Regions from separate parts of the Homo sapiens genome. Here region 2 is linked to region 1. The links come from fine-mapping of genetic effects on gene expression. Tissue or cell type: lung. Region 1 holds a variant in brackets; the other region holds the start of a gene. All regions are shown on one strand. Distances are from middle to middle.

Region 1 (5,134 bases):
AATCTATGGCCAATAACTAATTCTAGTTTCATGAAGATAATGACAGTTGGCTTGGGTCTTGAAGCTTTTAGGATTTCTTAAAGAAATAGACAAAAAGGGAGATGATTTTACATAATTATGTAAAAGCATATGTAAAGAAACAAAAAGTATTCCTTTATCTGAGCTATTTTACTGAACTTTTGAGCTTGGTTTCCAATGCCTTCCTGGCTATTTGATTTTGAATAAGCTCTTATCAACTGAAATGAAAAAAAAATAGTAAAAAAGGATGGAAAAATAGCAAAAAAACATAAGAGGGAGAATAGGAGGGAGATTCTCCTTTTCATTAATTCTTCCTTTGGTAAAATTCTTTGTCTCATAAAAATGTATCCACAGTAAAATACATTTTATAATTTATTTGTATTATTTTGTAACTCTAATACAATGTTTTTCAAACTTGACTGCACATTGGAGTTAACTTGGGAGATTTAAAAAAACATATTGATGCCTGTGGGCCACTCCCAGGGATTTTTTTTACCTAATTGGTCTGGAGTACATTGCTGGCACTCACTGAGAGGCTCTTGATGTATGTCTTACAGTGACTCCCAAACCCAGGCAAAAATATTTCTACCCAAAAGCTGCAAATCTATGATTCTGCAAGGACAGGACAGGATTTTGCCTGCCTTGTTCTCTAACAATGTGTTTCTCATTCAGCCAATTTTGACGCTGACTGGCAAACTGGCCACCAACTCTCTTAACAACCACATAAGCGACTTTTTTGTTGTTGTTCATTAGTCTGTTTCCAATTCACAGAACATAAAGGGCATGGATAATAGCAGGTCTTCCATAACTATTTGTTAAATGAATTAGTGCTAACTTAGTTGGCAGTCCCACTAGCAGCACACAAAAGGAGAAAATGAATTAGGCTTGACTGTGAAACAAGTATCAGAGCAAGAAAAGAAAGTACCTCCTTACAGAAAATGTTACATTCATGTATGAGCTTATGAAAGATTTCTGTTCTAATCCTGAAAAACCCAACACTGCTCTGTAATCTTTCTAGTTCAATCAAGAAATCATACAGAATCAAAAGGAACATGGTCTGCCACCCAAGATGGGGGAGGCTTGGTACTTTTCTTCATGAAAAGGAACTACTTCTGTTGAAGATGGCTAGAAAACTAGATTTCATGACCCAAGAAGCAAGATAGCCCTAGAGATCACTAATGTTTTCAGAAATGCTCTGCAAGTCATGTAAAGGCTAATTGAGAAGAAGATTCCATTGATAGGCATGGTTTAGCTGTGAAAAACACCGAAAACAAGTCAGTCAGGAGATAGTGATTAAAGAACATCTAAGTTTGTAGTTACGCTGAAGAAACTAAAAATAAAAGATGCAATAACAAGTATAAAAACCACAAGTCCCATATACTATGAGTTGTATTCAAAGTCCAAGTTAATAATCACAATTTTTTAAATCTACATAATTAATCTATGTCCTACTCTAGACAAAATATCATCCAGTGTCTAGAATGAAAGCAAAATGACTGTGCAAATATACAAACACCCCCTAAAATAACTATTGGGTAATAGGCTTAATACCTGGGTGATGAAATAATCTGTACAACAAACTCCCATGACATGAGTTTACTTGTGTAACAAACCTGCACATTTACCCCTGAAACTAAAAGTTTTTTTGTAAAAAAAAAAAAACACCCCTTAAAGCATGATCTGGCTCAGAGAAGATGCTGTCTAATGAAGATTTTGCTAGAAAAAGCCACCTACTAAGACATAGCAGATAAACCACCCAAGACAGTGAGGAAATTGGTGCTCCTTTTTCTTGGAAATCAGTATTGGTATGGGTTTCTACCTGATGTTACATTCAGTACAGTTTAAGAAAACATGCCTTGATATACTTGATTTGTGTCTTATTTGCCTTCAGAACTAGAGCTATGGGTTGGAGATAAGCCAATTTCAGCAGTAGAAACAGGTTATTTGTTCCTGTCCTATAAATTACCTGACTGTATGCATTGAAATAACCACAATGATTACACCCAGTATCTTGAAATGAGCATTTATTTGACAAGTGAGATGAGTGGGAGTCTATAAAAATGAGTGATAATTTCCCTCTTTCCCCAACAGCTGGGTCCCAGGGTAGGTCATAATCCCATCAGTCTTGTTGATGGGATGTTGCATGTTGCATGTGTCAGTGCATGTGTTGGGCATGGCTCTTGGATTGTGGCTTGGTGGCTGCTAAATTCCCACAAAGGCCTTGTTTGGGAGAAAGTGGAGGTGCAGAGCTTGCTCTCATTTGCCATTCAAATATGCAGATTACTGGCCAGGCACGGTGGCTCATGCCTGTAATCCCAATACTTTGGGAGGCCAAGGTGGGTGGATCACCTGAGGTCAGGAGTTCGAGACCAGCCTGGCTAACATGGTGAAACCCCATCTCTACTAAAAATACAAAAATTAGCCAGGCGTGGTGGCATACACCACCTGTAATCCCAGCTACTCAGGAAGCTGAAGCAGGAGAAGCACTTGAACCCGGGAGGTGGAGGTTGCCATGAGCCGAGATCGCCCCACTGTACTCCAGCCTGGACGACAGAGCAAGACTCTGTGTCAAAAAAAAAAACAAAAAACAAAAACGGATTACAATACATCAATTGCAATAACCAGAATATGTCCCGGGCTGCTCTTACTACTTTTTTGTTTTGCTTCTATTGTGAAGAATGGGGTCCTGTTCCTTGTAGTCCCATCTCCCTGGGGTTGCTGCCTACTAAGTGTTAGACATGTATTACTCTTAATTAGACATGTATTAATTTACCACTAAGGTTGCTTATGAGTTGGATCAACTGCTTATCAAAGAAAAGTTTACTGACACAAAAATATAAATAGTATTTTGTGTTTTAAAGAATACAAGGTTAAGTCATTTATATAAAAGA[A/C]TATCTTTAAAATAAACTCAGTATCTAAGTCTAAAATATATTCAGCTTGATTTGCACATTACCTTTTATCAAGGCAAGAAAATTATAATTATAATCTTTGACAAAATACTAAATTAGTGATCAAAATAATATATGTACATTTTATTTTGTAAAATGCAAATTACTAAAAAAAGATGTTGTATTATCATTAAAACAATCATCAACATCATTGTTATTGATACATGATACCATATAGCCCAGATGTACTTACAATTTCATTTTATGCATATGGGGAGGGGGAAGTACTAATAATTCTAACATCATTTCCGGCTCCAGGGCACAGCTGTGGAGTCATGCCCTCAACTATAGCTTCATCAAGATTAATTTACAAGCATGTATTTATCAGTATTTAATAGCACATTTTTGTTTCTGTAATCTAGCACAATATAAAGAACATATCAAAAGTAAATTCTAAAAGGAATTCTTTGTTATTAAAAAGTTTCACTATACAGCTTCTGTACAGTGTTTTAATCTATGCCATCATATTCAAAATTTTTAGTAAATTTTCCCACCCTTAGCCTTATTTACAATCTGTAGTTTGTTACCTTATCTAATCTTAGATTATCACAGTCAAAGCAGCACTATGTATACATATGCTTGTCTAAAATTTACAATAAGCCTGCAACATTCTATAAACAACATCACTTTGCTTTCTGTGCCTTGCTGGTTAACATTGTTTCTATTTTTTCCTCTAAGAAATACAGTGATCAGATTGCAACAAAATGCATGTCACATAAACAAACACAAACACAAACATCCTCAGAATGTAATTATGATCTTTTTGTAGTAGCAATATGAGTATAATTGTGAATTAAGACATAAACTTCTATAATTTTAGTTCTATTACATAACATGGTAGAAACATTGGTTTCTGCCTCTCTGAAAATGCATATTGCATGTCCTAGAATTTAGCAAAATTAGCATGTGCCTAGAAACATCAAAATGTTTATTATTTGGGGTTTTAAATTGACATCAGCATTAAATCATGTGTTTCCAGTTTCCATTTAAAGATAATTTATTTTATTTCACACTACAAATCTTCTCCTTTTCTCACATAATCGTCGTATTTCCTTGTTATCAACAAGACTTCTAATAACAAAAAAAAACCACTTTTTTTCATTTAAAAAAAATGCTTGGGGCTGGGCACAGTGTCTCATGCCTGTAATCCCAGCACTTTGGGAGGCCAAGGCGGGTGGATCACCTGAGGTCAGGAGTTCGAGAACAGCCTGACCAATATGGTGAAACCCCATCTCTATTAAAAATACAAAAATTAGCCATGTGTGGTGGTGTGTGCCTGTAGTCCCAGCTACTCGGGAGACTGAGATAGGAGAGTTGTTTGAACCCAGGAGGTGGAGGTGGCAGTGAGCCAAGATCACACCACTGCACTCCAGCCTGGGCGACAGAGTGAGATGCCATTAAAAAAAAAAAAAAAAAAAAAAAAGTTTAGCTTTGAAGCTATGAGGCTATATTTTTCCTGCTGTGACTTTAGTTTTTAATTAGATTTTCTATCCACATTGTATATATCTTTTACCCATTCAAGTTTGTAATCTATCTTGCTTTTAAAGACACACACCTTTTTCTCCACAAGTTGCAATTACCTATCGTTTGCATATAAAATTAAATAATTTAGATTTTTTGAAATAATATGTGAGGTTAAAATATTGCTTGCCAATGCTCCAAACAAAAATGATTACTTTTAAAATGGTATCGACCGGCAATGTGTGAATTACCATCAAAAGCAACCTGGTAGGATTTCATTTATGTTCCAAAATACTTAGAGAAACCCAGTAGAAAAAAAAAAAAAAAACAGTGGAAGTGATCCCCAAATGCTCCTTGTTGAGTTATTCTCTTAGAAAAGCTTCTGTAAAGTCTGTCTACAAAGGTAAAGGGTTTGGTGTTTTTGTATAGTTCCTAAGATGCCACAGTAGCCTCACAGCTGTCTGTTGCAGCTTGCTGTTTCCCAGAATGAGAATAAATGAGTGGCACGAGGGAAAGGCATTTAAGGCTAACATGACAAACTTTATGCACTTGTTGTTCCACAACATAAAAAATATCCAATTGGCCACTTGTAAGGAAAAAAAATGAACTATGAAGAGGAAAAGGAAAGACATCACCATTTTCATGGCCCTCCTATGGGCCTCTGTGCTGGAGTCTCTAGAGCCCAAGGAACTGAGCTTCAAATTTCT
Region 2 (5,162 bases), 180 kb before region 1:
CTGGAGTCCCAGCCACTCAGGAGGCTGACGCATGGAAATCACTTGAACCCCAGAGGTGAACGTTGTGGTGAGCCAAGATTGTGCTACTGCATTCCAGCCTGGACAACAGGGCAAGACTCCATCTCAAAAAAAAGAAAAAAAGAATTCATGATTAAAAAAAAAACAAAAAAACCTACCCCAAAGACACATTCTCATCGATTTAGAATTAAATGTCCTTACCATCCAAAAAATTAGAGGTTCAAACAATGATAGTTAAACAGTTAAACACACTATGGTACATATACGTGATACAAATTACAACGAAAAACAGCAATGATTTTACAACGAAAAACAGCAATGATTTTCTGATATAAGCTGTCAGTTCTTAATTATAAATAGAGATCATAAATTCCTCAAATGAAATATCATATAAAAAAATGTGTGAAATACACATGGGTTCATAATTCTGAGAAATTTCTTATCCTACTTTGGTATAACTGAACAGTTTATATGAAAAGTTGATTAAAGGTATGTTATGGTAAATATTAAATTTTCATATACATTCAGACATACACACACACGCAAATGTATATTATATATATATACTTTTATATAATAAACTTAGGTAAAAGACTTTTCTATGTCAACTTTTGGAAATTACTCAAATACATAGACTACGGAAAAACTTGTGGGAAATATAAAATGTTCCAGACACCATCAATTTGTTTTCTGCTAGAAAACACACAATGCACCTCTTGTGAATCTATGGAGTTGACTGGTTCTGTCCTTTTGCCCAGCAAGTCACCTGCCACAAAACTGAAAGAAAGGTCTGCTTTAGCGTCTTGTTCCCCCAAATCAGAATGAATGAGTGGAATGATGGATATATGATTCCAAAAGCTTGGCAAAGCATTAAGACAATTTCTTTTGGTCGCATCTTAAAATTCCAAAACGATATGATTAGACACAGAAAGTAAATGGCAAGTAATATGAGGAAGGAGGTCACAGTTTGCAGAGCTTTTATGTGGATCTTGGTGCTGGGATCTTGAGATCCTTTGCCATGGAGCTGCATCTTCTTCAGATGTTTACACAGAGAGTAGATTAACAGCAGAAAAGATATCAGGGTCAGAGTGAATGGTATCAAGTTTGCTAGCATGGCTACAGTCAAGTTGGAAAGGTGCATTGCATTCCTCAGTTTGATCTTCCAAGTTACGTTTCCTTCACATTCTTCTGTCCACACATTTATATACGTGTGTTTCATCACAAGGTGACAAACCAAAAAGAACAAAGACCCCAACACTATCACCAGAACTACACTCTTAGCCTTCCTTTTTAAGTGATGAAAAATAAGTCTGGAGAAATTGACGATCTTGAGCAAATAAAATATGCTGAGGCTAGTAGCAAGCCAGATGCTGAAATGATTGGTTACTGCCCAGGCATTAGAAATAAAAATTATTACTTTTAAATTAGATGAAGTTGGATTCAACACAGTTGAATACCAATGTAATAATATTACCCAGAGCAAACCAACTCTGGAGACTGCCAGAGCAGCAATAATTTGATCAGCTGAGGAGATCTTTTGTCTCTTGACCCAGGCAATGAAATTTATCAGTGCTATAAAGCCATTGGCAAAATTTCCAAGAATAAATGCAACCACTACTAGAATGGAAAAAACAATGTGTAGAAAACTCATCATGTCTAAACAAAAAAGCAAGTAAAAAATTCAGGCCTAATGTCACTGATGGTGACTCCTCTGATATTCAAGACTTTAAGTTAAATATGCACTTGATTCCTGAATGTCCAATAACATTCTTTATACTTTTAAATTCTGTGAACAATGTCAACAGAAAAGCACCAGCTTAAACTAATGAATGAGTTCAATGCTGCCTTTATGGGAAATACTGTTAGTCCCAAAACAACTCAAATTAATTCTTATTCATAAAGTCTCTATTCTTGCTATAGGCTGAAATTTTTCATACTGATGTTGAAGGGAAAGCTGAATTCTCATTTGCTAGCATTCAAATAAAGACATATCCTCTTTCATTGCTTTGCAATTTTTTCCTTGTTTCACCTTTCCATAATTTGTGTTCAGCCCTTCAGTTGTTGGGGAAATTTTAATACCCAGTACATAGATGACACAAAAAATATATTGTTAAAAGAGCCTGGTGAAATCTAGGATCAAAATCACTATGGATTTATTTTTAAAGCCAGATTTAAATACACAGAATCTAAACTTTTTATCAAAATCACCTAAGATTTTCTTGGAAACCACAGGAAAGCCAATACTCCTTATAATTTGGTTGCTGTTAACCAATACTTCTATATGGCATCACTATTAACAAGCTCATAAACACACACACAGACACACACACACTTTCACTCTTCAAGGATGGAAGGAATTGCTTTCTTGTAACTTATGACATGGAAAATGAGTTTCCAGGAGCTCGTCCTGGTGGAATTAGTCCTATTTTTCCCATGCCAGATTTTCAGCCAATGAATAATATTCATGAAACATATCTCTCATGCTTAGGCTTTTGGTAATGCTACCTGCAAGCTTGTAAACATTCCTGAGTACCAGACCTTTGTCACATAATTTTGCAGTGTCCTCCCACCACAGGCATAGTGACAACCTTGCACTAGGGCTCTGAGTTCGATCATGTAATTTGCTTTGATGAACAGAAAATTACTACACTTTACATCGAAATTTGAGATGACCTCCACATTAGGCTTTCTTGTTCCTTTCCGGTTTATAATGAGAACATGTCCACACTAACACACTGTTCCCAGAATAAGAATGAGTAACTCATGGAATCATATGGCTCCTGCCTGATCCAGCCTTAAATCGGCCAAACTCTAACTAGATCCAAGAGGCAAAACTTGGACCATCTCAAATCACCAGAGCCATCCACCAAACCCCAGCTTAAGAAAACAGAATCCAAAAACATGTGAGATATAAATATCTAATGTGGTTTTGGAGAAGTTTCTTTTGCAGAAAAAGCTAAGTGATATAGGTACTCTGCTAATCCAAGAGTTTGAGAAATATGTGCGCCCTTGTTGTGTCAGAAATTCAGGAGCCAAAGGAAAAATAGGTTGGAAATATCAAAGTTTTTGTAATATGAGGTGAATATCTAAAACTAGAAGAAAACTTTTGGAAAGATCTGGAGGCTGTAGGTAACAGCATCTCAAATTTCTCCATTTTGCAACTAAAATAAGAATTCACTTTAGCTCTCTTGAGTTGTATAAGAATGTACGTAAATGGTGGATTTTCCCCCTAGGTATATAATGAGCAGAGCAATTAATAATTTTTACGTGACATTTCTCCCAATTTGTAATTTTTTAAATAAAATTATAATGCACACTTAGAAATGGGCCAAAACAAAAATAGGTAAGAGCAATGTATCATAAACACTTATGTAACCATCATGCAGGATAAGACATGGAACACTGCAAACAGACTAGGTCCACTTCCAGGCCACTTTCCAAGCCCCTAAACCTTTATTCACATCTCCTGAGATAAGCAATATTCATAATCTATGATGATCATTTGCTTGAATTTCTTTATACTTTACCAGCTAGGTTCACAACCCTAAACTCCACAGCTTGGTCTGTCCTGCTTTGAACTGTGTATAGGTGCAGTCCTGTGTGTTCTTCTTGTTCATGGCTTCTTGCACTAGATATCATGTTTCTGAAATTTAGTTACATAGTTGCATGTACATGTGATTCATTTCTTTTCACCTCTATATACTGTTCCACTGTATGGATTTACTGTAATCTTTCATATCATTCAATCATCCTTAGTTAATATATATTTGGGCAGTCTATTTTTGAGCTATTATGAATAATACTACTATCAGCATTATTTCACATATCATTTGATGCAATTCCTATTATGGGGTCATTAAATGTGGTGTTCAAATTATCCTCACAGACATAGAAAAGTGCAAAAAATAATTTATCTAAATTTGTTCCTGTCACCTTTACCTCCAGTCTCTTTATCGCTATTTGCATATATCTTATCAATAATATATTTAACTCAGCAAGACGCTATTATTTTATTCAGTCAACATTCATTTAGAATTATGCACATATTTATCATTTCTGTTAATTTTTATTCCTTCTTGCATGCTTAACCTTGTATTTTCAATATTTTTTATCTGAAAAATATCATTTGGATTTCTGTTTATGAAGGTCCTCTATTCTTTTGAAACACACTAAAGACATGATTCCATTGAATTCTACTTTCCATTTTTCTGTTGAAAATCAGGTTGTCATTTAGAAAGTTGTTCCTTTTAAAATAATCTATCTTTTCCTCTGGCTACTTTTCAGATTTTCTACTGGTCTTTGATGTCTTGTGACATTTTATGTTAATTTGTTTTTAGTTATCTTGTCTGACCTTTGATGGTTACTAAAAATATATGGATTAATACATTTTATCACTTTTGGGAAAATCTCCACAACATTGATTCTGCCCTATTTTATCCCTTTTAATCTTCCAGAAATCCAGAAGTATGTTAGATGCTCTGATTGTAGCATCAATGCCTCTTATCCTCTTAGCTTGGCATTCTTTGTCTTGTGGTCTCTTTAGGCTTCTTTCTTTATAGTTGTCTTCCAATTCACTAATTCTCTCTTCTATGTCTAACTGGTTGTTAACTCTGTCTATTGGATTCTCAATATTGATTATTTATTTTTTGCTATTATTGTTTTAGTAGCAGAAATTATATTTTGTTCTCCTTCTATAAATCATTATCTATGGAGAAGCAGAACAAAGCACTCTTACCACCAAGTTTTTTAAAAAAAGTTGGGTTCTTTGTTCAGTTGGTTGGCTTTGTTTTTTTGTTTTTCGTATGCTTGACATGAAAATGCTAACAATTTTCTTCTTTTCCCAAGACTTTGGTCACAAAATAGAATAAAAGCTTGGTCTACACATCCTTCCGCAAGTTGGAAGAACCTGGAAATTGATGTGATGTTAGTAGCTTTTTTTTTTAGGGGGGGATAGCAGCTTGTCTGTTGATGAGTCTTCACCACAAACTCTCCCCACAGGGAAATTCAATGAGCTGTGCTGGATCTCAAGATGCCATTCCAATAAATAAATTATAGCACCTCAACCCTAGCTACACCATTCTATTTTACAAATTAAATTTTACTCTTTTTTTATTAGCAGAAGTGGAGCTCTGTACCTTCAAACT

Evidence for each region. PIP is the estimated chance that this variant, and not a neighbour inherited with it, causes the effect.
Region 2: TAS2R20 starts here. The variant in region 1 is fine-mapped to the expression of TAS2R20 in lung (GTEx, PIP above 0.99). The same link has a PIP of 0.9 or more in monocytes.

Annotation. Positions count from the first base shown.
Region 1 is chr12:11,181,171-11,186,304 of GRCh38, forward strand. It overlaps TAS2R42 (taste 2 receptor member 42), which reads right to left. Exons shown (of 1, transcript NM_181429.2): 1 at 4,823-5,134. The coding sequence ends at 4,823. Among named protein-coding and RNA genes, the nearest start is that of TAS2R42, 3.2 kb to the right of the region's middle. The variant A/C (reference allele first, on the strand shown) is at 2,910.
Region 2 is chr12:10,996,204-11,001,365 of GRCh38, forward strand. TAS2R20 (taste 2 receptor member 20) reads right to left here and starts at 2,101. Exons shown (of 1, transcript NM_176889.4): 1 at 1-2,101. The coding sequence starts at 1,672. The coding sequence ends at 743. All of the region lies in intron 3 of PRH1-TAS2R14 (PRH1-TAS2R14 readthrough), which reads right to left. All of the region lies in intron 3 of PRH1-PRR4 (PRH1-PRR4 readthrough), which reads right to left. It also overlaps a transcript of PRH1 not described here.